Linked DNA regions of Homo sapiens. The protein of the gene in region 6 interacts with the protein of the main gene of each other region in a biochemical or structural test. Each region holds a gene or a part of one and is shown on either strand. Other genes may lie near its edges.

Region 1 (4,116 bases), on a different chromosome or scaffold from region 6:
GTCTAGGTAGGAGTTGGAGTGCGTCCCGGTCTCCGCCAACCCAGTGCTGTTTTTACTGTGCGAAGTTAACGTGGGCGAGATCCTAGCGTACAGCTGAGGGCAGATCTCGTCATTGGAGAGGAGCATGAAATCCTTTCTAAAGAAGTTCACCGGCGTCTCACACTTGAGGTCGCTCATCAGCACTTCGGAACCCAAGCGTTCTGCCCACTGCTTGAAAGGCACAATTGTGCAGGAGCACTCCCAGGGGTTTCCGTGGAGGTCTATCTGGATGATGGAGGTTAACTGGTCCAGCACCCCTGCCACCGGGAGGTACATGAAGTAATTGTTGTGCAGGCTGAGTTTAGAGAGCGAGACCCCAGCGAACACGTCCACAGGCAGGGACCTCAGCAGGTTGTTGTTGAGAATGAGGATCCTCAGTTTGGGCATGGCATTGAAAGTGCCCGGGAGGATGAGCTGGATAGCGTTGTACTCCACGTTCAGGTACTCTAGGTTTTGCAGCCCCGCGAATTTCTCCCGGGACAGCGTGTCCAGGTAATTGCTATCCATGTATAGCCACCTGAGGTCCAAAAGGTTCTTGAAAGTGTTGTTCTCTACAGTAGCGATGTTATTGTTGCCCAGATCCAACAGAATGAGGTTCTTGTAATCCACAAAGTGCGATTTTCGGATGCTGTGGATCTTGTTATCTCGTAGGAAAAGCTCCTGCACGTTAGAGAGCTTGGGCTTCAAATCAGCCAAGCTGCTCACGTTCCTGTTGTTGCAGTTCATCTTTAAACCCGACCCTGGGATGTGGTCGCAGCTGCAGCCCCCAGGGCAGGGTAAACTGTTAGCTAAGGGTTTGTTCCTGGAGCTACCCGTCGCTATCGCTGCTGTGGGTCTGATTTTGATCTGCCAGTTGCCTGGGATCTTTGTACCTCCGTTTGGAGCAGACCCTGGTGTGGCATGATCCTCTTGCCCATTTGTCTTGAAAGGAGTTGGCAGGGGTCCAGGAGCAAAGGTCTCTTCTTGGGCAGGGGGCGCCGGGAGACTAGAATCCACTCGGTTTTTCAAAGGACACAAGTCCTGTTCGGTGGTTTCATTGAGGTCTTTACCCTGCAGTCTGGTGGGGGCTTCGCAGACCACTCGGCCGATCAGGGCATTCTTGGGAATGTTTTCCAGCCATTCTTTCAGGGAGAGCAGATCACAGGTGCAGTCCCAAGGGTTATCCTCTAGCAGGATCTCCGCAATACCAGGGATTTGCTCCAAGACCTCCTCATAGGGCAGCGTTTTCAGCCTGTTACCCCGGAGGTCGAGGTGGGTGATGGGCACATACTGGAACACGTTGGCAGGTAGGGTGCTGATGAGATTGTCATTTAAAATGAGCACCTCCAGCTTGTTCAAGTCCTGGAAGGCCCCCGGGTCTATATCTCGTAATAAATTAAAATCAGCCTGGAGATATTCCAGATCGTCCAGCCCCAGAAAAGTCTGCTTTCGAAAAGACTTGATCTTGTTGTTGTTGATGTGCAGCCTTTTCACCAGCTGCAGCCCCAGAAAAGCCCCCGGAACGATTTCATGCAAGCCATTGTTTTCCATGTGCAAACTAACCGCATTATAAAAGTTAGCGAACTCATTAGGGAAAAGTCGAGTGAGGGAATTGCCATGCAGAAATAAATGGTAAAACTGGGAAGTCGGGGCAGTGAAACGCTGCAGACTTGTGAAGCCCTTTTTTTCACAGTCTACGTGTAGGTCCCCTTCTATCTCATTGCAGGAACAGATCTTCTCTTTGCAAACGTCCCCTGTAACGTTTCCAGCGGCAAAACAAAGAGACGTCTCCAGCAACAGAATCCAAAGCAGCATTTTTAAAGCGAGCAATTCATCCCCGATCTCATCACAAAGTAACAGCGACCATCCTGCTCGCCACAGACACAATTCAAGTTCATTTAGTGCTCCAATGTCCGAAGCCAGGAAAGGAGAAGAAAAGGGTTTGGGGGGGTGGGGGTGGATTCCTTCCTCCCTAACCCCCCCGCACTGCAATAGCCCAGACGCCAGTCAATAATTATATCCACAAACTATCCAGGCACGTAGTGCAAGGCAAGCAAAGAAAAAAAAAAAAAAAAAAAAGTAGGAAAAAAACCCCACTCCCCCACAACACTTTAAAAATAACAGAAAAAGAAGTTAAATATATACATATAAATTAAAAGTACACCCTTACAGAATCTCATCTACTGATCTTCACTGATCAGAAATGAAACAATGCTAGTAATTAGAAGCAAGTGCATGTTAGAGAAACAAGCAGAGGGTTTGCAGCGTAGTACAGGCGCACTGCCTGTGCATGGCTGTGCGTCGGACTGACCTTGCCTCTCTGATACAAAGCAGGGTTTTCCGCGGCTTCTGTTGTTGAGGCTGCTGGTGGAGTTCTTGCTGTGGTTGCGGGTTGCCCAGAAGTCCCCCCGAGGTGCTGTCCAGTTCCCCCGGTGCTGAAATCACGCCCGACCGAAGGACTCACGCTGCCCAGCCAATGGCGCTGGAAAATTTCCGCAATCGCTGCGTTTTGTGGTTGTCCATCCTTTTCCTTTCCTCCCCTTCGGTCCTCTTAAGGCTTTTTTTTTTCTTTTCTGTGCTCTCGCTCTCGCTTACTAGCTCTTCTTTTCCTGTTCTCCTTCTCTTTCTTCTGCTCTTTCGGAATTACGTGGAGGGGGGCGGAGGGCGGGGGGCGAGTTGTCTGAGGGAGGAAGAGAGCGCGAGAATGAGGGGAGGGGGGCGGAGAAGAGAGTTGCTAAGAAGCTCTGCTCGTTCCAGCCTGGTGCACTCTGAAAGATCTGACACCCTCTGCTGATCTGCAGTAGCAAAAATCCATCTGGCTAGGGAATGCTGAAAGAAAAAAAAATCAATCCACGTACAGGGCAAGCGTTAAAAATGTGGGCATAAAAGGCTGACGATCTACATAGATGCTTATTTTAAATGGATTATTTGATTATTTTTGCGTGCTGGAAACTTTACCCTTTCCTTTCCTTAACGAGTTCACAGCCCCCACCAGCTCCACCATTCGGAAAGGAGTGCTTTTAAAACATTTATTTCCCAATGGCTTGAATAAAATTAGTGTCAGGGTGTCAAGCGAACAGCAATTTGAGGTAATTATACTGCACGCCATTTTCATCGGTTCTTTAAATGCATTTCTTCCTTCTCTGCGGCACAGTGTTTTACGCTATTTGATGTCTTTGAAACATTTCTTTTGGTATGTTCAAAGTGGCTTTCGGAACATATATGTTACATAATATCATAATTGAGTATGAATTTTTTTGCAAGGTATATAAATTAGGCATATACTTTTTAAAACTTGCAGAAATTTAGTCAATTTGGTCATTGAGAGTTAGGTTCTTTGATATTTCTTGAATGTTATTTAACTCTGGAGGGTGAAACACAATGCATGCTGAAGTCCTTGATTCCAGTCCCGAAAGCTTTAACTGAGAACCGGAAAAGAAGGGAGAGGGGGCAGGGAAAAATCCCAAGATGATTTGTGAGTGCTGTTAAAAACCCACTGGCAGGCAGGCGCGCGCACACTACACGCACGCACACACACACACACACCCCACTGACAAAGTTTTCACATCAGTTTGAACTAATTTAAATGTTTACAAGTAAATAACCAGTTGCATTTTGAGAGGAGGAGATAGAAATCTCTGGACTCTAAAGCTCAGCGAGAACGCTCTCTGCAGGTAGCCGGCAGCTCCTCTTCGCGCAGATGCTTGTTGGGTCACTGATGCTGGGGAAACACGAAGCTCAGGCTTTTTCCAGTTAAGGAAACAACAGATTCCAAACTCTGAGCTTATAAAAATCCAGTAATATCACCTTCTGGGATGGAAGAAAACGTGAACATGCTGCTTCCGTGAAGCCTCTTTTGCTGACTTTTCCTTTCAGAGTCGACACCTTTTCACATCAATACGTCCTAAAATATTTATAGATCATTTTAGGATTTGAAATTTTTAGGTCTTTTAAATAGAGTTACTGTTTGGCCCTTTCTTCACTCTATGCAGAGAGGATATGTTTACACCACTTGCCTTTTTAATTAGGTCTTTTGCAAGTTGGACAGCTGCAACGAGCTTGCTAATATTTTGTGCAAAAGAGCAAATGTTCAAGGAA
Region 2 (3,500 bases), on a different chromosome or scaffold from region 6:
GACCTCCAGGATGGATCAAGTATTTTTGATCTCTCTTGCACCATGGGCCCTTTGGCTGTGTGATGAAACTCATGGGATCCCATCTCCAAACAATCATTTTACATGCATAAAATAAAACACACAGAATTTCAAAGGACACCATACATTCCTTGAGCGGTAAGGTTTTAGGCCATGTCCTTCATGTTTCATATAAGGGAACTCATCTGTGGTCAGCATTTTGGCCCCTGGCCTTCTGTCACTCTGTGACCTTCTTTCCTCTGAATGACTTATGTGATTCTATTGCAGCTTTCCACATTTAACCTCCCTTTCTACCAGACCTAGGAAATGACCCCTTGATTTTCAGAGAACTTTTCAAGGTCAGTACCATTGTCTTCACTTCTAGATGCAGAGACTAAGGCCCAGGGGGTTCAGCACAGGTGAGAGGGCTGATGCTACCTGTAAGACCCAGGGGGCTCACATGATGTGGTCTGACTCAGTCAGCGCTCAATTGGGAAAGGGAAGCTCTTCTCCCTCTAGGGCTCTAAGTAGGCTCTAGGGCTGCTTAGAGGACCCAGCAGAGGTCTCCCAGGGGAAAGAGACTCCCTGACGGTGAAGCCAACCCAGAGAAAAATAGAACTTAGGGAAGGTAAGAAACTGAGAATACAGATTTGTAGGGGACCTTTGATCCAGCTGAACCTGAAGCAGGTTCCTGACTTGTTAATGACATGAGTCAACACACTCTCCCTCCCTTTCTCTCTCTCTTTTTTTTTTAAAAGCCAGTTTGATTCAGTTACCAAAACTGAATAAGTGCATTTAGTGAGTGTCCAAACTAAGTCAGGTATTAATTATCCTTATCTTACAGATGAGAAAACTGAGGGAGGCCAGGAGAATGAAATGACTAGCAAGTGGAAAAGCCATGATTTGAATCTCACTCTTTCTGACCTCAGAGCCTTAACCATGACTGCATATGAGTCCAGGTGAAGGTCAAATGCATGCCTCTTTTGGGGAGTCAGAACCTTCAGCCAAGAGGTCTATTCATTGTCCTTGTATATCCTCCAACTGGGCTTAGAACAGAACATTCATAAGCTCATAGCCATAAGACCACTGACCACAGCCACCCAGCCGGGAGGTGTGGTCTTTCTTTACACATATCTCTCAGGCTGCCCGTGTGGATTCTTTTCTTCTTAGCCTTGTAGTTGATGTTCTTTTTATCTCCTCTTACCTGCACGAATGGCACAGTTTGCCCCAGAATCCCCACAGACACCTTTGGGGAAGAGGGGTATAGGTGGGAGCAGCCCCAAGACCTCCCCATCCCCTCCTCCTTCCCCAGCCAGACACCCTCCCTGCCTTTGCCACAGCCGCTTGCTCACCTGTAAATCAGTACCTCATCGTCAGAGCAGTTGTACTGCAGCTGGTACATCTTCACCCGGGGTGCTGACTTGCTGACAGACCACTTGACCAGGGCCGAGGTGGTGGTCACTTCAGACACAAGCACAGCCCGTTCCGGGGGGCTTTTGGGAGGCTCTCCGCCCCCACTGCCTCCACCTCCCCGGCTGGTCTTGCTGGAGCCAGTGATGTCTGAGAGGCGGGACTTGGGGGGTGCAGTGCGGCTGGTGCTGTTGCTGAGGTGTGGCAGCTGGACGATGGAGACCTCCACCATGGCCGTGGCCTCTCCGGCAGCATTGGCAGCAATGCAGGTGAAGGCACCACTGTCCTGAGATGTGGTGATGAAGATGTCCAGGGTGCCATTGTCATAGACAGCGGTCCTTGAGGAGTTCCCTACCAGGCGGTCATCGGGGGCTACCCAGTGGATAAGGGGGCTGGGGTCCCCAATGGCTTTGCACTTGAGTGTGGCCGCCTGGCCCTCCAGAACCAGCAACTTGTGTGTGTGCTGGGTGATGAGAGGCGGCTCGCACACAAACTCCTCCTCACGCACATGCCAGAAGTAGCGACCCTTGAGGCCCCCTGGGGAGCCACAGGTTTCCAGGTCATCGTCCCGCTCGAGCCTCCGCAGCCAGAGAAGCTCACAATTGCAGTGAAGTGGGTTACCCCCAAAACTAAAGGACAAGGGTGGGGCAAAGGGTGTGGCTGTCAAAGCCGAAGCCTGGGAGCGGGCAAAGATGGGATCAGGGGGCAGCTTCTGCAGCCGATTGGAGGTGAGATCCAGGCGGGCCAGTTTCTGCAGGTCTGCAAAGGTGCCCTCGGCGATGTGATCCAGCAGGTTGTGGTCCAGGCTCAGCTGGTGGAGGTTGACCATGCGTCGCACGGAGTCCCACGGCAGGCCATGGAGGTTGTTGTAGGAGAGGTCCAGATCCTCCAATGTCAGCAGGAAGTCCTCAAAAGCCTCATCTGCGATGCCGCCCAGCTGGTTGTTGTTCACGATAAGGTGCTGCAGGTTGACCAGGCCCCGGAGGGTGTCCTCCCCAAGGCTTGGCAGCCGATTGCTGTCAAGATGCAGGGAGCGGAGGCTCTCGAGGTCCAGAAAGGAAAAGGGCTGGATGTGGCTGATGGTGTTCCTGGACAGGGTCAGGTCCACCAGCCCCGTCATGTTGGCAAAGTCCTGGCGGCTGATGTGGATGATGAAGTTGCCGCCCAGGCGCAGCTCCACTGTCCGCCGGTCAATATCAGGGGGTACAAAGAGCAGCCCCTTGGAGGGGCACAGGGTCCCCAGTGACTCAGACAGATTCTGGCAGACACAGTACTTGGGGCAGGCGTCGACCACGGCAAACGCCATGCCAAACGCTAGCAGGCCACCAAGCAGGGTCTCCATGGTCTGGTCACTCAGCGCCTGGAAGGGAGAAACACAAGCTCAGGGTCAGGAGGCAAATTCCTAATGCACTCACCCAGAGCTTCCTCCCTCACATTAACCCTCACTGCCTTAGGGAGTGGCATAGAATGGCAAGTGCTCAAGCAAGACCTAATCTCTTCCATGAATCCCTCTAATGCAGTTTTACTGTTTCTCTTTTCCTTAGCTTTATCACCTTCTAACACACTATTTAGTTTACTTATTTATGATGTTTATTTATTGTTTCCTGTTTCAGTCCTCTATGGTCAGCTCCAAAGAGGGCAGGTACTTTTGCCTGTTTTACTAATTGCTGTATCCCAATTACCTAGCTCAATGCCTGGAACACAGTAGCTGCTCAATAACTATCTGTTGGATGGATGGATGGATGGATGGGTGGATGGATGGATGGATGGATGGATGAATGCGATACCATATCATTGGCTTATCCAATAATTGAGTTTGAAAGGATATTATGGCTGTTTTTTGAGGCATAATTTTACATTCTTAATTGGTTTAGGCTTAGCATGAAATTAAATTGAACCAGCATTCCTTAAGAATGAGGTTGTAGATAAGAAGAGAGTTGGTGCTGAGAGACTCCAAGGTCAGTGGGGAACTGTTTCACCAAGGAGAATCCACATAGTTTATGAATCTTTGAGAATGTGGGAAGTGAAGAAGGAGGTGTGATGGGAGGCAAAGGAGTGAATTCTGAACCCTTCATAAGCAATTAGCCTCTATC
Region 3 (3,500 bases), on a different chromosome or scaffold from region 6:
AAGCAATGCAATTGGTGTGGTATTTTTTTTTTTTTTTTTTTTATTATACTCTAAGTTTTAGGGTACATGTGCACATTGTGCAGGTTAGTTACATATGTATACATGTGCCATGCTGGTGCGCTGCACCCACTAATGTGTCATCTAGCATTAGGTATATCTCCCAATGCTATCCCTCCCCCCTCCCCCGACCCCACCACAGTCCCCAGAGTGTGATATTCCCCTTCCTGTGTCCATGTGATCTCATTGTTCAATTCCCACCTATGAGTGAGAATATGCGGTGTTTGGTTTTTTGTTCTTGCGATAGTTTACTGAGAATGATGGTTTCCAATTTCATCCATGTCCCTACAAAGGATATGAACTCATCATTTTTTATGGCTGCATAGTATTCCATGGTGTATATGTGCCACATTTTCTTAATCCAGTCTATCATTGTTGGACATTTGGGTTGGTTCCAAGTCTTTGCTATTGTGAATAGTGCCGCAATAAACATACGTGTGCATGTGTCTTTATAGCAGCATGATTTATAGTCCTTTGGGTATATACCCAGTAATGGGATGGCTGGGTCAAATGGTATTTCTAGTTCTAGATCCCTGAGGAATCGCCACACTGACTTCCACAATGGTTGAACTAGTTTACAGTCCCACCAACAGTGTAAAAGTGTTCCTATTTCTCCACATCCTCTCCAGCACCTGTTGTTTCCTGACTTTTTAATGATAGCCATTCTAACTGGTGTGAGATGATATCTCATAGTGGTTTTGATTTGCATTTCTCTGATGGCCAGTGATGATGAGCATTTCTTCATGTGTTTTTTGGCTGCATAAATGTCTTCTTTTGAGAAGTGTCTGTTCATATCCTTCACCCACTTTTTGATGGGGTTGTTTGTTTTTTTCTTGTAAATTTGTTTGAGTTCATTGTAGATTCTGGATATTAGCCCTTTGTCAGATGAGTAGGTTGCGAAAATTTTCTCCCATGTTGTAGGTTGCCTGTTCACTCTGATGGTAGTTTCTTTTGCTGTGCAGAAGCTCTTTAGTTTCATTAGATCCCATTTGTCAATTTTGGCTTTTGTTGCCATTGCTTTTGGTGTTTTGGACATGAAGTCCTTGCCCACGCCTGTGTCCTGAATGGTAATGCCTAGGTTTTCTTCTAGGGTTTTTATGGTTTTAGGTCTAACGTTTAAATCTTTAATCCATCTTGAATTGATTTTTGTATAAGGTGTAAGGAAGGGATCCAGTTTCAGCTTTCTACATATGGCTAGCCAGTTTTCCCAGCACCATTTATTAAATAGGGAATCCTTTCCCCATTGCTTGTTTTTCTCAGGTTTGTCAAAGATCAGATAGTTGTAGATATGCGGCATTATTTCTGAGGGCTCTGTTCTGTTCCATTGATCTATATCTCTGTTTTGGTACCAGTAGCATGCTGTTTTGGTTACTGTAGCCTTGTAGTATAGTTTGAAGTCAGGTAGTGTGATGCCTCCAGCTTTGTTCTTTTGGCTTAGGATTGACTTGGCGATGCGGGCTCTTTTTTGGTTCCATATGAACTTTAAGGTAGTTTTTTCCAATTCTGTGAAGAAAGTCATTGGTAGCTTGATGGGGATGGCATTGAATCTGTAAATTACCTTGGGCAGTATGGCCATTTTCACGATATTGATTCTTCCTACCCATGAGCATGGAATGTTCTTCCATTTGTTTGTGTCCTCTTTTATTTCCTTGAGCAGTGGTTTGTAGTTCTCCTTGAAGAGGTCCTTCACATCCCTTGTAAGTTGGATTCCTAGGTATTTTATTCTCTTTGAAGCAATTGTGAATGGGAGTTCACCCATGATTTGGCTCTCTGTTTGTCTGTTGTTGGTGTATAAGAATGCTTGTGATTTTTGTACATTGATTTTGTATCCTGAGACTTTGCTGAAGTTGCTTATCAGCTTAAGGAGATTTTGGGCTGAGACGATGGGGTTTTCTAGATAAACAATCATGTCGTCTGCAAACAGGGACAATTTGACTTCCTCTTTTCCTAATTGAATACCCTTTATTTCCTTCTCCTGCCTGATTGCCCTGGCCAGAACTTCCAACACTATGTTGAATAGGAGCGGTGAGAGAGGGCATCCCTGTCTTGTGCCAGTTTTCAAACTATCTCTCAGACCACAGTGCAATCAAACTAGAACTCAGGATTAAAAATCTCACTCAAAGCCGCTCAACTACATGGAAACTGAACAACCTGCTCCTGAATGACTACTGGGTACATAACGAAATGAAGGCAGAAATAAAGATGTTCTTTGAAACCAACGAGAACAAAGACACCACATACCAGAATCTCTGGGACGCATTCAAAGCAGTGTGTAGAGGGAAATTTATAGCACTAAATGCCTACAAGAGAAAGCAGGAAAGATCCAAAATTGACACCCTAACATCACAATTAAAAGAACTAGAAAAGCAAGAGCAAACACATTCAAAAGCTAGCAGAAGGCAAGAAATAACTAAAATCAGAGCAGAACTGAAGGAAATAGAGACACAAAAAACCCTTCAAAAAATCAATGAATCCAGGAGCTGGTTTTTTGAAAGGATCAACAAAATTGATAGACCGCTAGCAAGACTAATAAAAAAAGAGAGAAGAATCAAATAGACACAATAAAAAATGATAAAGGGGATATCACCACCGATCCCACAGAAATACAAACTACCATCAGAGAATACTACAAACACCTCTACGCAAATAAACTAGAAAATCTAGAAGAAATGGATAAATTCCTCGACACATACACTCTCCCAAGACTAAACCAGGAAGAAGTTGAATCTCTGAATAGACCAATAACAGGCTCTGAAATTGTGGCAATAATCAATAGTTTACCAACCAAAAAGAGTCCAGGACCAGATGGATTCACAGCCGAATTCTACCAGAGGTACAAGGAGGAACTGGTACCATTCCTTCTGAAACTATTCCAATCAATAGAAAAAGAGGGAATCCTCCCTAACTGATTTTATGAGGCCAGCATCATTCTGATACCAAAGCCGGGCAGAGACACAACCAAAAAAGAGAATTTTAGACCAATATCCTTGATGAACATTGATGCAAAAATCCTCAATAAAATACTGGCAAACCGAATCCAGCAGCACATCAAAAAGCTTACCCACCATGATCAAGTGGGCTTCATCCCTGGGATGCAAGGCTGGTTCAATATACGCAAATCAATAAATGTAATCCAGCATATAAACAGAGCCAAAGACAAAAACCACATGATTATCTCAATAGATGCAGAAAAAGCCTTTGACAAAATTCAACAACCCTTCATGCTAAAAACTCTCAATAAATTAGGTATTGATGGGATGTATTTCAAAATAATAAGAGCTATCTATGGTGTGGTATTTTTAATCTTGATTTCTAATGTTCGTTGCTGGCATATAGAAACATAGTCAGTGTTTGTATTTTTATCCAGTTCTGTGACCTTACTGAATTCACTTATTATTTCTAGAAGTGTGTGTGTGTGTAGATTCATTGGGATTTTCTGTGTA
Region 4 (4,054 bases), on a different chromosome or scaffold from region 6:
GGCAACAAAGTGAGACCGTGTATCTATTATACAAAAATTTTTAAAAATTAGCTAGGCATGGTGGCGCCCACCTGTGGTCCTAGCTACATGGGACACTGAGGTGGGAGGATCAATTTGAGCCCAAGAATTTGAGGCTGCAGTGAGCTATGATTGCGCCACCACACTCCAGCCTGGGCAACAGAGCGTGACTCTGTCTCTCCAAAAGAAAAAAGTAAAGAAATGGTCAGAGAAATGACAGCTGGTCTGGGTGAGTGGCAGGAAAACCAGAGGGCTTTAGACGTGGTCAGAGATGGTAAAAGCTGGCCATGGGGAGACGGGGCAGCCAGGGTGGCAACAATGATCAGAAGTGGTCAGATATGACCAGAGAAGAGAAGGGGTTACAGATGGTCAGGAAGATGAGCAGTGGACAAAGAGAAGGGAGGGCATGGGTTGGGCTCAGATCTGGGGGAGATGACCATGTCAGAGACACGTGGTCAGAAACGGCCCAAAGCCAGCAAGGTGGTCAGAGAGGAGGAAAAGGACAGACATGGCAGAGTCAGTGGGAGCCCAGGACAGCTGCTCAGGAGGATGGTGCGGGGAGAGGTCATCGGAGAGAGGAAAGGCAGCAGAGATGTTCGAGATGATCAGAGGGCATCAGCAAGTGAGAGAGGAGAGGTGGCCAGAGATTATCAGAGGGCATCAGTGAGTGAGAGAGAGAGAAGAGGTGGCCAGAGATGATCAGAGGGCATCAGCGAGCGAGAGAAAAGAGGTGGGCAGAGATGATCAAGAGGGCATCAGTGAGTGAGAAAGAGAGAAGAGGTGGCCAGAGATGATCAAGAGGGCATCAATGAGTGAGAGAGAGAGAAGAGGTGGCCAGAGATGATCAGAGGGCATCAGTGAGTGAGAGAGAGAGGAGAGGTGGCCAGAGATGGTCAGACAGTTGCAGACTGGGAGTTAGGGTCAGGGGTGGGAGGAGGGCAAGAGCAGTGGGAGAGATGGCCAGAGAAAGGGAAAGGTGGCCAGAGGAAGCTAGAGAGGAGAGATGGACAGAGGCTGCTGGAGAGAAGAGTGGTGGACAGCAATGTCAAAGATGGATGGGGACGGTCACAGACCTAGGCTTAGATTCAGGGGTGGAGAAGGAGCAAGAGAGCTGGTGAATGATGATTAGAGAGAGGCACAGTGGACACAGATGTCAGCGATGGTCACTGAGAAGCAGCAGGCAGAGGCGACTGGAGAGAGGACCTGTGGACAGGGGTGTCACAAAGATGATCAGAGAGAGAAAAAGGGAACAGAGATGGCCATTGAGAGGACAGGTGGAGAAAGGAGCCCAGAGAGAGGAGTGGTGGACAAGAGAGGTGGCGGAGACGGTCGGACCGGATAGACAGCGAAAGGCTGTAAGGGTTGCAGGGGTCAGAGACCTGGAGGTCCCATCAACTGAGGCAGGGAAGGTCAGAGAGGGGCAAGGATGGCCAGTGTCCAGAGAGTGTTTGGAGCAGAGCAGGAGCTGAAGGCAGACCCATGGGGGAATGTCTTTTTTTCTGGAGAAACCCCAAGAGTGTCAAAGGGTACCTGGTACCGTAACCCGCAGCCACAATGCTCCTCCCAGCCCGTCCCCACCTTGAGGTTTCAGCAGCCTTACCTGAGCTAGAAGCAGCCCCAGGGAGCAGAGTCCTAGCTCCAGGGGAGTCAGAGGTCAGGGCTCTGGAGGGAGCATCTGGTCATGCTTTTCCTGTCCCCAAGGCTTCTGTAGAGGGACTGTGTCCTGACTCGGCTCAAATCTGTGGCAACGGAGTCTCCAGACCTTAATACTCGGGGTTCCAGACCCCTAAATATTGGGCCTCTAGGGTCCAGTTTTACGGGTCCAGTTTGGGTTGTTCAGGGTCAGGGTCTCCCAGGTCCAGTCTTGGGATGCTAAGCAGCCAAACGGTGGGGTTTAGAGTCTGAGATCCGATCCCGGGGTTCTGCATTCAGATATTGGGGTGCTGAGTCAAGATTGGGAGGTCTCAAGCCCCAGATTTAAGCACTCAGGTCTGCAGCAAGGACTTCAGGCCCAAACTCGGGTTCAGGCCCCTTGGAATCCCACAGTCCAGATCTTGGAATTTGAGGCCTGAATCCCAGGGTTCAGGTCCCCAAGAGTGGGTTCCAGGGTACAGTACTGGAAATCCAGTCCCAGATTTCAAGGTCCCAGGCCCAGAATTCAGAGTTCAGCTCCAGGCTTGAGGTTTTAGATGTCAAATCTTGGGGTTCTGCTCCAAATATTGGGGTCTGTGTTCCAAATTGTGGGGTTCCGGCTCCAAATATTGAGGTCCCAGTGACCGATGTTGAGATTCCAGCCCCATATACTGGGGTTCAGGCTCCAGATCTTGGGGTTCCACGGCCGGATCTCGGGGTGCTGGTCCCAGATCAGGGTTCCAGGCTCGGGTTTCCGGAATTCCCGATTCAATCTGGGGGTGCAGGCCCCCGAGGTGGAGGTTAGGGCGCGGGGTCCGGGGCGGCGGCGTCCCGGCTGGCTTCCTGGGCTGCGGCGGAGGCTGACTGGGAGGGAGGGGACCGGCTGCGGTGGGGAGGGGGGCGACCGGGCAGCCCCAGGGCCGGGTGGGGCGAGGCCTGGGAGCGGAGGGACGGTCAGACAGACTGGGACACGCGGGATGGGGGCACCGCAGCGCAGGCGGGGGCGCAGGGGGGAGGGGCCGCGCTCAGAGACCCCTCCCCCGCCGGGGCCGAGGCGGGGGCCGGGCGGGGGCCGGGCTGGGCGGGCCGGGTCCAGGCGCTCCCGCGGCCTCCTCGCCGGCAACCCAGGGCAGCGCGCGCACCGGCGCTTAAAGGCGCAGGCTCCGCGCGCACCCGCGCTTAAAGGCGTAGGCACCCGCCCCTTCTCTCAAAGACGCGCCCCGGCCCCACCTCCCATGGAGTCGCACTGGCGCTGCTGGGAAAGAGAATCCCTGGATACAGAGAGACTGAGACAGAGAGACAGAGAAGAACGGAGATACAGAAAGGCAGACAAAAAGATGGGCAGGCTTAGATTGATGGATAGAGAGGAGAAAATGGAAAGAGGCAGAGAGACAGATTGAAACACACACATATTCGAGACATGGAAATGCACAGAGACAGCGAGACACAGAGAGTGATGGAGAGACAAGAGATAAGGACAAGTCAGAGAAAGACAGAAACAGAGATAGAGACGTGCGTGCGCGCGCACACACAGACACACACATACACACTCACACGCTCTAAGACGCAGCACCTGGGCTGTGAGAATGGTATGTGTGTATGTGCATTCAGTAACTATTCCTAGCCTTGAGTGTAGCGCTTCATTCCAGAGCCACTGGCCCCCCAAACCTGTCTCTTTCTGCCCCCCTTATCTCAGCACCACCTCCCTGGAATGTCCTTTCCACGGTTGGAGTTTCCTTACCTGGCCATGCCCAGCAATAGGCTTGATCTTTCAGGCCAGAGGGGCTCCTTCCCAAGGCTCCTTTCTCTGCCTGCAAGAGGGAAAACTTGTGCCATCTGGGATTAGGGAAAGACCTCAAGACACACTGACAGCCGGGGGCGGTGGCTCACGCCTGTAATCCCGGCTCGTTGGGAGGCCAAGGCGGGCGGATCTTTTGAGATCAGGCGTTGGAGACCAGCCTGGCCAACATGGAGAAACCCCGTCTCTACTAAAAATACAAAAATTAGCCGGGTGTGGTGGCGGACGCCCGTAATCCCAGCTACTCGGGAGGCTGAGGCAAGAGAATTGCTTGAACCCGGGAGGTGGAGATTGTAGTGATCTGAGATCCAGCCATTGCACTCCAGCCTGGGTGACAGAGTGAGACTCTGTCTTTAAAAGAAAGAAAGAAAGAAAGAAAAGCAGAGAGGGATGCCTTGCCTTGCAGGAGCCAGGCCAGGTGTCCTTGCAGTGCAGCCCACCAGGATCACCCGGGGGCACCATAGATCTCCAGGTCCCAACCTCAGAGTTTCTGGTTCAGTGGGTCTGAGGTGGGACCCAAACATTTGCATTTTTAACGAGTACCCAGGTGATGCTAATGTGACTTTTCAAAGACCATACTTTTTTTTTTGAGACAGGGTCTTGCTT
Region 5 (3,500 bases), on a different chromosome or scaffold from region 6:
CCCATCCAGGTGGGTCGGGGCAGAAGCTTGGGGACCACCTAAAGCTCCTCCTGAGGTGGCTCTGATGACCTCTCATCCTGAAGCTCCTAAGAAAGGCTGTAAAATGAGATCATTCCCCTCCTGGCCTTGAGGGCTTCTGCATGGGCCAGCTCTACTCTGAGGATGTGTGGGTACCACGTGGACAGGCTGAGGTAGGGGTTTCTTCCCTGTCTCCACAGGCCAGGTCCCTGTGCTGCTGCTGCTGCTGCAGGTGCTGGCTGGGCTCAGGGCGGAGCCTGCGTCTGGAGGCTGGGGGAGGGATGGCCCAGCCAGGAGCCCAGCACAAGCAGAGTCTGGGACATAGGCTGGGGAGTCTGGGGAGCTGGCTTGGTCTTCAGCCTGGCAAGGTCTGGTCTCTAGCATCCTTTCGTTGGCTTCACTGCCTGTCTCCACAGGGAGGGAGCTTTTATCAATGTAATCACAAGCAAGGACCAGATGAAACTTGTGAGGCCACACAAGAAAGGGAAAGGGGGACACGACAACAGAATTAATTAATTGTTACAGGCTCTGGATTAATTCTGAAGTTACTCATGTGATAGACCTCTTGGGAAGAAAGCCACTAGAAGAGTCATGCATACATTTACAGCAATGCCTCATTTCCCGCCCTGAGCCATGGCTCCCCAGCTGTGGGCTTAGGGGGCTATACCTTAAGTATCCTAAAGGGGAGAGGCCATGGCATAATATTTTTAAAAATAATAAAGCCGGCCTGGCATGGTGGCTCAGGTGCCTGTAATCCCAGCACTTTGGGAGGCCAAGGCAGGTGGATCACTTGAGGTCAGGAGTTCAAGACCAGCCTGGGCAACATGGTGAAACCCCATCTCTTCTAAAAATACAAAAATTAGTTGGGTATGGTGGAGCGTGCCTGTAATCCCAGCTACTTGGGAGGCTAAGGTGGGAGGATCACTTGAACCCAGGAGGTGGAGGTTGCAGTGAGCCAAGATTGTGCCACTGCACTCCAGCCTGGGCGAAAGAGGGAGACGCCATCTCAAATACTACTAATAAAGCCATTTATTGAGGGCTTACCACTTTGACAAGTGCCTTCAACGTACTATCTCATGTAATCCTCATAACCCTGTGGGTTGTTTGGTTGTCCTGTAGGCACTGGAACCCGCAGGACGCCCGTGGCTGCTGACTCCCATGCTGCAATCCCACTGGTGCCATGTATCCTTGACATATATCGGAGTACACGGTAGGTGCTTAACCAATGTTTGCCCTTCTGACTCTAAGTGGAACATGTCTAATCCCTGCAAGCTCCTAAAAAACTGTCTTGCCTCTTTGGTCTCTGTGCCCCCACGCCCTGTCTTCCTGATCTCTTTAGCTAGAGTGACTCCAGGCCTCACTGCCTGGGGCTAGGTACAGGAGCCCTGGAGTCTATACTCAGACCCTCCTGCAGCCATGCCTGGCACACTGCATGGCCTCTGTGGCCTAACTGCTGTTATGGAAGCTGCTGCAAGTGTCCAGAGTCAGCCCCAGTGCCAAGGGCTGCTGGCTTGATCTGGGGACTCCTGGGGTAGGTGGTGGTGGAGGAGGAGGAGGAAGGCTGATGCTCCCCATCTGTTATTGAATTTGCTTAAGGCAGTGGTTCTTAATGGGTGTGCTCGAGTGACATTTGGCAGTGTCTGGAGGCATTTTTGGTTATTCCAACCGAGGGTACCACCAACTTCTAGTGAGTAGAGGCCAGGGAGGCTGCTACAGTGCAAGGAGAGCCCACCACAAAGGATGGACTGACCTGAGCGCCTGCAGTGAGGACGCTGAGAAGCCCCGGCCCGGAGCAGCTCGGGGGGTCTCAGCTTGCCATTGAGAGGCTTGGCTTCAGAGTAGAAATCTTGAAAGATGTGTCTGAGTTGCCCAGAAGGAAACCACTCCCCTGGATTTGGAAGTATGGTGTTGCTGAGCTCGAGATAACTACCGCCTGCTCCCACAAGTATGGGGGACATCCCGGCATACCCAGCAGCAGTGGCCCATGGTGAGTACTCAGTACATTGTGCAGGGATGGACAGGCCTCTCCCCCTGCTGTGGGGTGCTGGCAGGAGCCCAGAAAGATGCAAATGAGTGCCCAGCCCAGTGTTGACAACCCCTTTCTCCAAATCCCTGAGGCCTCGCAGCAGGACTCCTGAGAGACAGAGGGAGGTCAAGCTCCGAATCTCACCTTCCCAGCAGGGTGCACTGTCCTGATCTTACGTTGGTTTTCTGGCTGAGTCTCCCCAGGGGCACAGCCTTCCAGACACCCTGCAGCTCACAGATGCTCGTGTTCCTCTCACAGATACATCAAGCCACAACCCATGGGGATCCCAACCCACTGTCCTTTAACCTAGTAGGGGACTAGAGTGCACAAAGCTCAGAACTTTCTCTTTTTTTTTTGAGACGGAGTCTCGCTCTGTCTGTCCCCCAGGCTGGAGTGCAGTGGTGCGATCTCAGCTCACGGCAAGCTCTGCCTCCCGGGTTCACGCCATTCTCCTGCCTCAGCCTCCTGAGTAGCTTGGACTACAGGCGCCCGCCACCGCGCCCGGCTAATTTTTTTTGTATTTTTAGTAGAGACGGGGTTTCACCGTGTTAGCGAGGATGGTCTCGATCTCCTGACCTCGTGACCCATCCACCTTGGCCTCCCAAAGTGCTGGGACTACAGACGTGAGCCACCACGCGCGGCCGCCCAGAACTTTCTCTGAGTACCTCAGCTGGCAGGCAGTGACCCAGAGAGGTTGTAGTCCGGGTCATCCCCAAACCCACACCCTGTGCAGGCTGGGCCACACTCACCCCACCGATGACAGGGGAGTACCCAGGCTTGTCTTAAAGCCCTCCCAGGAGGGAGGGGAGGCTCCATTACCCATGCCACTGTCAGCAGCCGTTTCTTAGGACTGCCTTTGACCCTCCCAGGAAGGAGCTAAAGAACAAGTGGCTGCTGTGCTTGTAAAGCCTTCATACGCAAGAGTCATGAGCCAAGAGGGCCCGGGCCGGACAGGCAGCCCCAGAGCACTCCCCACCTTCCTTCTCTGACTCACTCTCCATCATGCCTGGGGGTGACTCACCCTCTCTCTATCAGTCTCCTCCTCTGCCAAATGGGAAAAGAGGTTACTGTCACTATCAACAGGATGCTGGAGGGCCTGGAAGAAGCAAAAAGGTGCGCTCCACTCTGCCTGCCAAGAAATGTCACCACGGGGGCTCCCTTCACCCTTTCCTTTCTCACAAGAAAAATGTGCGTCTGAAGCAGTCACACATGCCACAAGTCGGCCTCCTGCTGCCCCTGGACTAGGCAAATCCAGCTTTTCCTATGGCCACACACTTGGGAACAAATACTGACAGAAATGGGAAACAACACAACAGCCACAGAGAAAAGAAGGAAAGGAAGGGAGGGAAGGAGGAGGCGAGCCACCCTCCTTAGAGAAGAGGTTACCGTGCACATTTCTGCCGCCTTAGGCGGAAGCAGTCCAGGGAGCCTCTTTGCCAGTCCTCCAAGGGGAAGG
Region 6 (3,500 bases):
TCTTGTGCTGAACTGCAGCATTCTGGCAATTTCTCCTTGCACCTTTCAAGCAATCCTGAATAAGATGGTGGTTCTTTGCTGTGATTTCTTCTTCCCTTGATTTTGAATCCTTGAGGTATCTGTAAATAAAATCCTTCAGATGCCTCATCAGTCAGGATTCTCTTCATTATTTTTCAGGTTAGATTATTAAACTGTGAATTCTTGGTCCACCTGGAATAATTTGTTTTTAATTTGTTTTGTGTGTAATAGTCCCACTAAGTAGTTGTTAGCTAGAAGTTAAGAAGGACTTCTCAAGTGCCCTGTATGGCTCAGAAGAGACTCCATGGATATTGAAGGGCCTGTAGTAAAAATCCAGAATGGGTCAGGGGTTTCTACGTTGCATAGTGGTCAAAGCTGCCCAGGTACTCTAGTGCGGCACGATAGGAAAACTGATATTGATCCTGCAGGAGACAATGAATGGGGAGAAGCAAAAGAAGGGACCATGAGCATATTTTAATAGAAAAATAAAAATCAATATTGCATAACAAAATAACATCTATATAGGGGCAAAATCACTACTTTCGTCAACTGGTCTAATCCAATGACCAATTGTTTATAGTGAACAAAGAAAAAGCCACATGGGGTGTTGATTAACTTTGCCAATCAATTTGACTAAAACGATCTCCCAATTCCAAGCAGTGGCAGGTCGAGTGAACATTACCTTCCCAGACAAGTGTTTTCCAAGTAGTATCAAACCATTACCACCAATTGAACACATAAACTTCTTACATGCCTTATAAGCAGATAATGATGAAAATCATCCTTTACAATTATCTGCTTATTCAAGATAACTAATTCTCAGTTTAAATATTTAAGAGAGGCTGATACAGACACAAACTGTCCTGAGAAAAATCTGAATTTACTTATCTTCTGAACTACTGCCAACAGAATTTGAATTTTTAAAAAATTATGTTTGGACAGTAGAGCTTGCAGTGAGAATCACTCACAGTCATTTCAGCTACCCTTTGGCTGTCTCTCTCACTTACATATGATGTTCATATACAGCCAGAAGGTAGCTGGTGCGGCACACCAGGCACACAAATCCATTTACACAGGGCACTGGACTTCCAAGCTTTCCATCCCTGAAAATGGCTTCACAGGACTGGCTGCCCACATCAAAAAATACCTGTAAATTCAGCCCAATTCTGTGTGATTGCTAGTTGTCTGTTTTAGAGAGGCACACACTAAAAAAAAGCAGTATGAAGCATGGCCTTTTTCAGACAACGAAGAACACTATCATATTGGAATAAATTGAAGCATTGTTGGAGAGATGGAAAAATCACAATTTACAGCTCTCTATAGGGATGAGGAAAAGGATTTTCCCCATAAAAGAAACCTATTTTCAGTGGCCAATCGGGCTGAAAGTAGACAGATAGTTTCTATTTTGCTTAAATGTGCATTTTTCTGTAATAAAAATGGTTGGTAATGCAAAATAAATGGTGTTTACTTTCCTATCTTGTCACAGTAAGTTGCTTGGCTGAGTGTTAAGGCTTTTTAAATGTCCAATTTCCCTCTGTAACCCCTAAGACCCATTAAGTTTGTCAAGCTGGCATAATGTTTTGACTATTGCAAGCCAAACACTTGCACTACTTTGAAATCCGTCTGAAAGATACTGTGGATGATGAATTGAGGAACACATATAAGTTGTATAATTTGGTGGCCTTTTGCAGAACATAAACTCTATCAGTAATATTATCTTTAGAAATGAATGCTCAATAGACCAGACTGGCTATATCATAAACTCTTATTATTACGAGAAATATCCAAATTTCCATATTAATTATTGGAATAGGAAATGAGGGGCTAATATTAATATCTCTAGGCTTATCCAGAATCAAAATGTTTTGAATGGCCATTGTTAAGACATGAAATATAGAAGAGCTGATACCTCTGTAGGCATACAGAGGGAGAATGGAGAAGTTAAATGGGCTGAGATTATATTATGTACTAAATATTATGCTTTCTATATATTTATATATTTATATTATAGGACTATGAATATAACGAATTTTATGAAATTGCCATTTTATTGGTCAAAAATGGTCCAGTAGTAAAATTTAACATAGCTCAATCTAACATATAATCTCACATAATTTCTATAGCAACACTAAGACACTAATAATCTCATCCCATTTAAAAAGGGGGAAAATGAGGTTCAAAATTATTAAACAGTTTGATGCTTTCCCCACAGTATTTTGTGTCTGGTGTTGAGAGAGTATGGAGTCCGGGAGGTCCAGGCTAGCAAAACGTAGGCTCTTGAGATGCGAAAAATGCAATGGATTTTCTCACCTCTGTCTGTACCATAGCTGGTCGTTGTGTTCTTAACATTTTGACAGTCTGGAAGATATCTACAACTCCTTCATATCTCATTCTTTCCAAAACAATGCTTAGCGTTATGAAGACTCCAGTTCTTCCAACGCCCGCGCTGCCACAATAACAAAGGCGATGTTACTGGGTGAGATGTTCACAGTCTTGGCCACATTTGCTTGGGTGTGGACATACTTCTACCAGCTTCCACACTCCGTATCTCTTTATAGCCATATTCAGGAAAACATGGTATCACATTCATCAAATGATTACTCTTGGGATACTGAGTTGTAACAGCATGTGATAATGAGGATGAAGTAATTAGGAGTAAGTCTAATAAAAGGTCTTTTCAATGGGGATTTATACCATTTTAGAAAGACCAAGGAAACATAACAAATGAAAAGAAAGGGTAAATAACATATAGGTTTATAATATTCATGGAGATTCTGAAATTTACAACCTGCCTACTTAATATTTTTAAAGTATGAAATAATTCAGAATAAGGTGAAGTGAATTTGGCATCTTCAACTTTTCTATCACACTGTTCACATTTTGCAGTTACTTAAAATACATATGCGATGCCCATAACCTAAATGTATTTGCCTATAACTAGTCAAATGTTTACACTGGTTTTATTATGAGAAAAGAGATGGTATAACAGGGTATATACGTGATTTTCACTTAGTCTTCAGGAGGGTTTATGACTATCCTGTAAGTGTACGTACACATGAAGTAAATACTATGTTGTTTTCTTATTTCTTGAGACTTAGAACTTTCAACAGATTCTCACAGGGGTCTCTAATCTTAAAAAAAAATGGTTAAGAGCCATTGATCTCTGAACTTAGCTACCATTTTTACATGATCAGCAACTAAAACCACATTAGAAAGGTTTTGAGTTTCTCTCTGTTGTCTTCATTGTTTTAAGATAACTCCAGAATCTTCACGGTAGCAAGAAAGAAAATTAATTCATAGCTCTTGTGCACTTAAGGAGGAAAGCAATGGGAAGTTCAGATAATGAGGGAAACAGTGAATAATCTGAAAAATCCCTGCATTTTTGGATCCTAATTAAACAGCATGTGTAACACTTGGGCACGGGCTGTAGAAAATAGATGGATTCATTTACTGGAGGGTGTAGCTGACAGGCATATATAAAT
Region 7 (3,500 bases), on a different chromosome or scaffold from region 6:
AGAGATAGATTAGATAGATAGACAGATAGATAGATAGATAGATAGATAGATAGATAGATAGATAGATGTAATGACAGATATAAAAAAAGCAACTTGAGCTCTTTGTGTCTATTGACCAACTACAGTTTATTTACATCCTTATAGAGCCCACTCAAATTATTGCAAAATACATGTATTTCTAAACATATCCATTACTTGGAAATGAAAGAGACATTAGAAGTCTGCACAGTAGAGGAAAATTCTATAAAATAAACCAATCTAATATGAAATAAGCACAGAGTTTAAAAATATTTTCTTTTCCAATAGTCAGAATTAGAAAAACTGATCCCATTGAAACATGAAAATATTCTAGATGTTGAGACATAAAAACATCTTTGGATACCTGAAAAGTAAACTAAATAGGAGACCTGTTTTTGTTTCTGAGTTAGTGATGATATCGATTATACAACATGATTCTTTAAAGACCAGAGTGTAGGCTCCATGTTTTGTTCACTGATATATCCCAAGATCCTAGAATAATATCTGGCACACAGCAGTGTTTATTAAATATTTATTACATTGAATTGTTGCTGGCATTCCTAGCATGGAAATTGTAGAATAAGGTGTCCTCTACCTGATCTATCATTTAGTTATAACTATTACTCTCAACAAAAAATAAAATTAGAAAATATTCATTTGTCGCTTAACGTTTATGAACAACTTGCCACACATATCCTCATCCAGTTCTCCAGGTTCTGCACAGCCTGGAGGCAGCTGGGCATCAAGAGCCCACATTGGAACCCCTGTCTGATGCCTGACTCTGTTCTCTCCCACTGTCACTGTTAAGGGTTGTGTCCCCTCTGCCCCCAAAATTCACATGTTGAAATCCTAATCCACAATTCCTCAGAATGTGACCTTGCTTAGAAATAGGGTCATTGCAGATGTAATTAGTTCAGTTAGGATAAGGTCATACTGTAGTAGGACAGACATGATTAGTTGCTTTATAACAAAGGGAAATTTGGACTCAGACGTGCACACAGGGAGAAGATCATGTGAAGATGAAGGCAGCGATCAGGTCAATGCTTGTACCAACTGGGCAATGTCAATGATTACCAGGAAACCACCAGAAGTTAGGGGAGCCCTAACAGTCCTCAGAAGGAACCAACTCTGCTGAACCCTTGATTTTGGACTTCTGGCCTCTAAAACCATGAGACAATAAATTCCTGTTGTTTAAGCCACCCAGTGGCACTTCGTGGCAGTCTGTGGCACCCAGTTTGTGGCACTCATTTATTTTGGCTCTAAGCAACCCTAGCAATCTAATACAGCCACCTACTCATTCCTAGCAGTTTGTCAGATGTCCTATCAGGGTACTTGGTAGCCCTGACCTTACAACCACTGGACACTCTCCTGTACAGAGCTGAGAGTTCATGAGATTGCCTCCAATTTATCCCAAAACATCCACAATTATATGTTGTCAATGTCTGACATGTTCTTCCATCTAATGGCACAGCAATTACGCCTGACACCTTTCCCTTACCGTCTCCTGGTTCCTGTGCTCGAGGAGGCATTGTAACCTGGAGGGGGCGGTGGAAACCAGGACTGCCTGTTAAGAAATGACACGGTAATAAACATTGTGATTGAAAGGCTGATCCCACCCACATGTCTGAAAATAATTTGACAGTTAAAAAGACAATGAGATTATACCAAACCTTGGAAGTAAAATGAACACTATTTCATAAATGAAGTAGGAAGTAACTGTCCTATATTCTAGGCTATCTGTTCCTCCAAGTAAACCTCTTTTCTCATTTCCTTTAGCACTAAGTAACGTGGACATCTCTTTTAAAAAGAAATCTAAAGCAAATCTAGAAAACAATGACAATTGTTAAGTCTAGATAGTAAATTCATATATGTTTATTATGTTATTCTCCTATTCTCCCTATTTTTCTGCTTGTCTGAACTATTTCACAACAGAAATAACAATCTTATACTCTACTCTATATATATATATATATATGTTTTATTTTTATTTTTATTTTTGAGACGGAGTTTCGCTCTTGTTGCCCAGGCCGGAGTGTAATGGCGCGATCTCCGCTCACCACAACTTCCGTCTCCCGGGTTCAAGCAGTTCTCCTGCCTCAGCCTCCTGAGTAGCTGGGATTACAGGCATGCACCACCACGCCCAGCTAATTTTGTAATTTTTAGTAGAGATGGGGTTTCTCCATGTTGGTCAGGCTGGTCTCGAACTCCCGACCTCAGGTGATCCACCTGCCTCGGCCTCTGAAAGTGCTGGGATTACAGGCATGAGCCACTGCGCCCAGCTTCAAAATATAATTTTTTTTTTTTTTTTTGAGATGTAGTCTCGCTGTCTCCCAGGCTGGAGTGCAGTGGCGCGATCTCGGCTCACTGCAAGCTCCGCCCTCCGCGATTCTGCTGCCTCAGCCTCCGAGTTGCTGGGACGAGGTTTCACCGTGTTAGCCAGGATGGTCTCGATCTCCTGACCTCGTGATCCACCCGCCTCGGCCTCCCAAAGTGCTGGGATTACAGGCTTGAGCCACCGCGCCCGGCCTCAAAATACAATTTTTAAAAAACTGTGAGCGAGCTAGGCGCAGGGCCTCACACCTGTAATCCCAGCACTTTGGGAGGCTGAGGCGGGTGGATCACGAGGTCAGGAGCTCAAGACCAGCCTGGCAAAAATGGTGAAACCCCATCTCTACTAAAAATACAAAAATTAGCTGGTCGTGGTGGCATGTGCCTGTACTCCCAACTACTCGGGAGGCTGAGGCAAATAATTGGTTAAACCTGGGAGGCAGAGGTTGCAGTGAGCCGAAATTGCACCACTGCACACTCCAAAAAAAAAGAAAAAGAAAAAAGAAAAAGAAAAGAAACTGATAGAAAACTCTGACAAGTAAAAATATTGAAAGCGTAAGTGAATATTATAGCAGCACTACCTTCAGTTCTAACCTCAATTAGAAAGATGTCCTCACATCACTAGGTCATAATTTTAGTTGGTAGCAATTGCTAAGCAGAAAGATCAAGATATGGATGAAAACTGAAGATATTCAGATGAGAATGATATGCACTACAGAAGAAAAGGCAGACAGGAAAGCTGGATTTAAATTGTTTAAGTAGGTCTATTCTCTGAGCCGCTGCAGAACTCAACTAAGACAAGGAACGAGTCAATCAAGGCAGATTCCAGCTCAATGTAAGGAATAGATGCTACCCAGGAGAGCAAGTCAAAGATGTGTCCCAAAATAGTGAGAATCTTATTGATGGCTTCAGTGGTCCCGAATTATGCCCAAAATGTCGGAGGAAAGATTCTTGCACTAGATAGGAGATGGAACTGACTGACCTAAAATTTCTCTTTCAAACTTAGGAATCTGTTTTTACTAGGCAAAGGGTCAAGGGACATGAAATTTGGGTTCAATGGAAAGATGAATCACATTTTCTAAGACTTTGCAGCTACAGCCAGAATTTTGTTGAAGGAAAAAACAGAATCAGTCATTTTTCTCCAGCAGCACCAT

Evidence for each region.
Region 1: the proteins of PTPRD (region 6) and SLITRK1 are reported together in a solved structure, tested with the Homo sapiens proteins (one study listed by BioGRID).
Region 2: the proteins of PTPRD (region 6) and LRFN2 interact in a biophysical measurement, tested with the Homo sapiens proteins (one large-scale study listed by IntAct).
Region 3: the proteins of PTPRD (region 6) and SLAIN2 form a complex in vitro, tested with the Homo sapiens proteins (one study listed by BioGRID and IntAct).
Region 4: the proteins of PTPRD (region 6) and LRFN3 interact in a biophysical measurement, tested with the Homo sapiens proteins (one large-scale study listed by IntAct).
Region 5: the proteins of PTPRD (region 6) and PAK6 form a complex in vitro, tested with the Homo sapiens proteins (one large-scale study listed by BioGRID).
Region 7: the proteins of PTPRD (region 6) and SCEL form a complex in vitro, tested with the Homo sapiens proteins (one large-scale study listed by BioGRID).

Annotation. Positions count from the first base shown.
Region 1 is NC_000013.11:83,879,675-83,883,790, forward strand, and holds the start of SLITRK1 (SLIT and NTRK-like protein 1 precursor), read right to left. Parts: upstream 2,801-4,116; 5' UTR 2,330-2,800; exon of another isoform or gene 1,887-2,329; 5' UTR 1,834-1,886; coding exon 1-1,833. UniProt on the Homo sapiens protein: It is involved in synaptogenesis and promotes excitatory synapse differentiation. Enhances neuronal dendrite outgrowth.
Region 2 is NC_000006.12:40,430,365-40,433,864, forward strand, and holds part of LRFN2 (leucine-rich repeat and fibronectin type-III domain-containing protein 2 precursor), read right to left. Parts: intron 2,768-3,500; 5' UTR 2,750-2,767; coding exon 1,350-2,749; intron 1-1,349. UniProt on the Homo sapiens protein: Promotes neurite outgrowth in hippocampal neurons. Enhances the cell surface expression of 2 NMDA receptor subunits GRIN1 and GRIN2A. May play a role in redistributing DLG4 to the cell periphery.
Region 3 is NC_000004.12:48,414,529-48,418,028, forward strand, and holds part of SLAIN2 (SLAIN motif-containing protein 2), read left to right. Parts: intron 1-3,500.
Region 4 is NC_000019.10:35,935,120-35,939,173, reverse strand, and holds the start of LRFN3 (leucine-rich repeat and fibronectin type-III domain-containing protein 3 precursor), read right to left. Parts: upstream 2,801-4,054; 5' UTR 1,619-2,800; intron 1-1,618. UniProt on the Homo sapiens protein: Cell adhesion molecule that mediates homophilic cell-cell adhesion in a Ca(2+)-independent manner. Promotes neurite outgrowth in hippocampal neurons.
Region 5 is NC_000015.10:40,266,563-40,270,062, reverse strand, and holds part of PAK6 (serine/threonine-protein kinase PAK 6), read right to left. Parts: intron 1-3,500. UniProt on the Homo sapiens protein: Serine/threonine protein kinase that plays a role in the regulation of gene transcription. The kinase activity is induced by various effectors including AR or MAP2K6/MAPKK6.
Region 6 is NC_000009.12:8,317,503-8,321,002, forward strand, and holds part of PTPRD (receptor-type tyrosine-protein phosphatase delta isoform 1 precursor), read right to left. Parts: intron 2,465-3,500; coding exon 2,329-2,464; intron 441-2,328; coding exon 372-440; 3' UTR 1-371.
Region 7 is NC_000013.11:77,570,206-77,573,705, reverse strand, and holds part of SCEL (sciellin), read right to left. Parts: intron 1,583-3,500; coding exon 1,517-1,582; intron 1-1,516. UniProt on the Homo sapiens protein: May function in the assembly or regulation of proteins in the cornified envelope. The LIM domain may be involved in homotypic or heterotypic associations and may function to localize sciellin to the cornified envelope.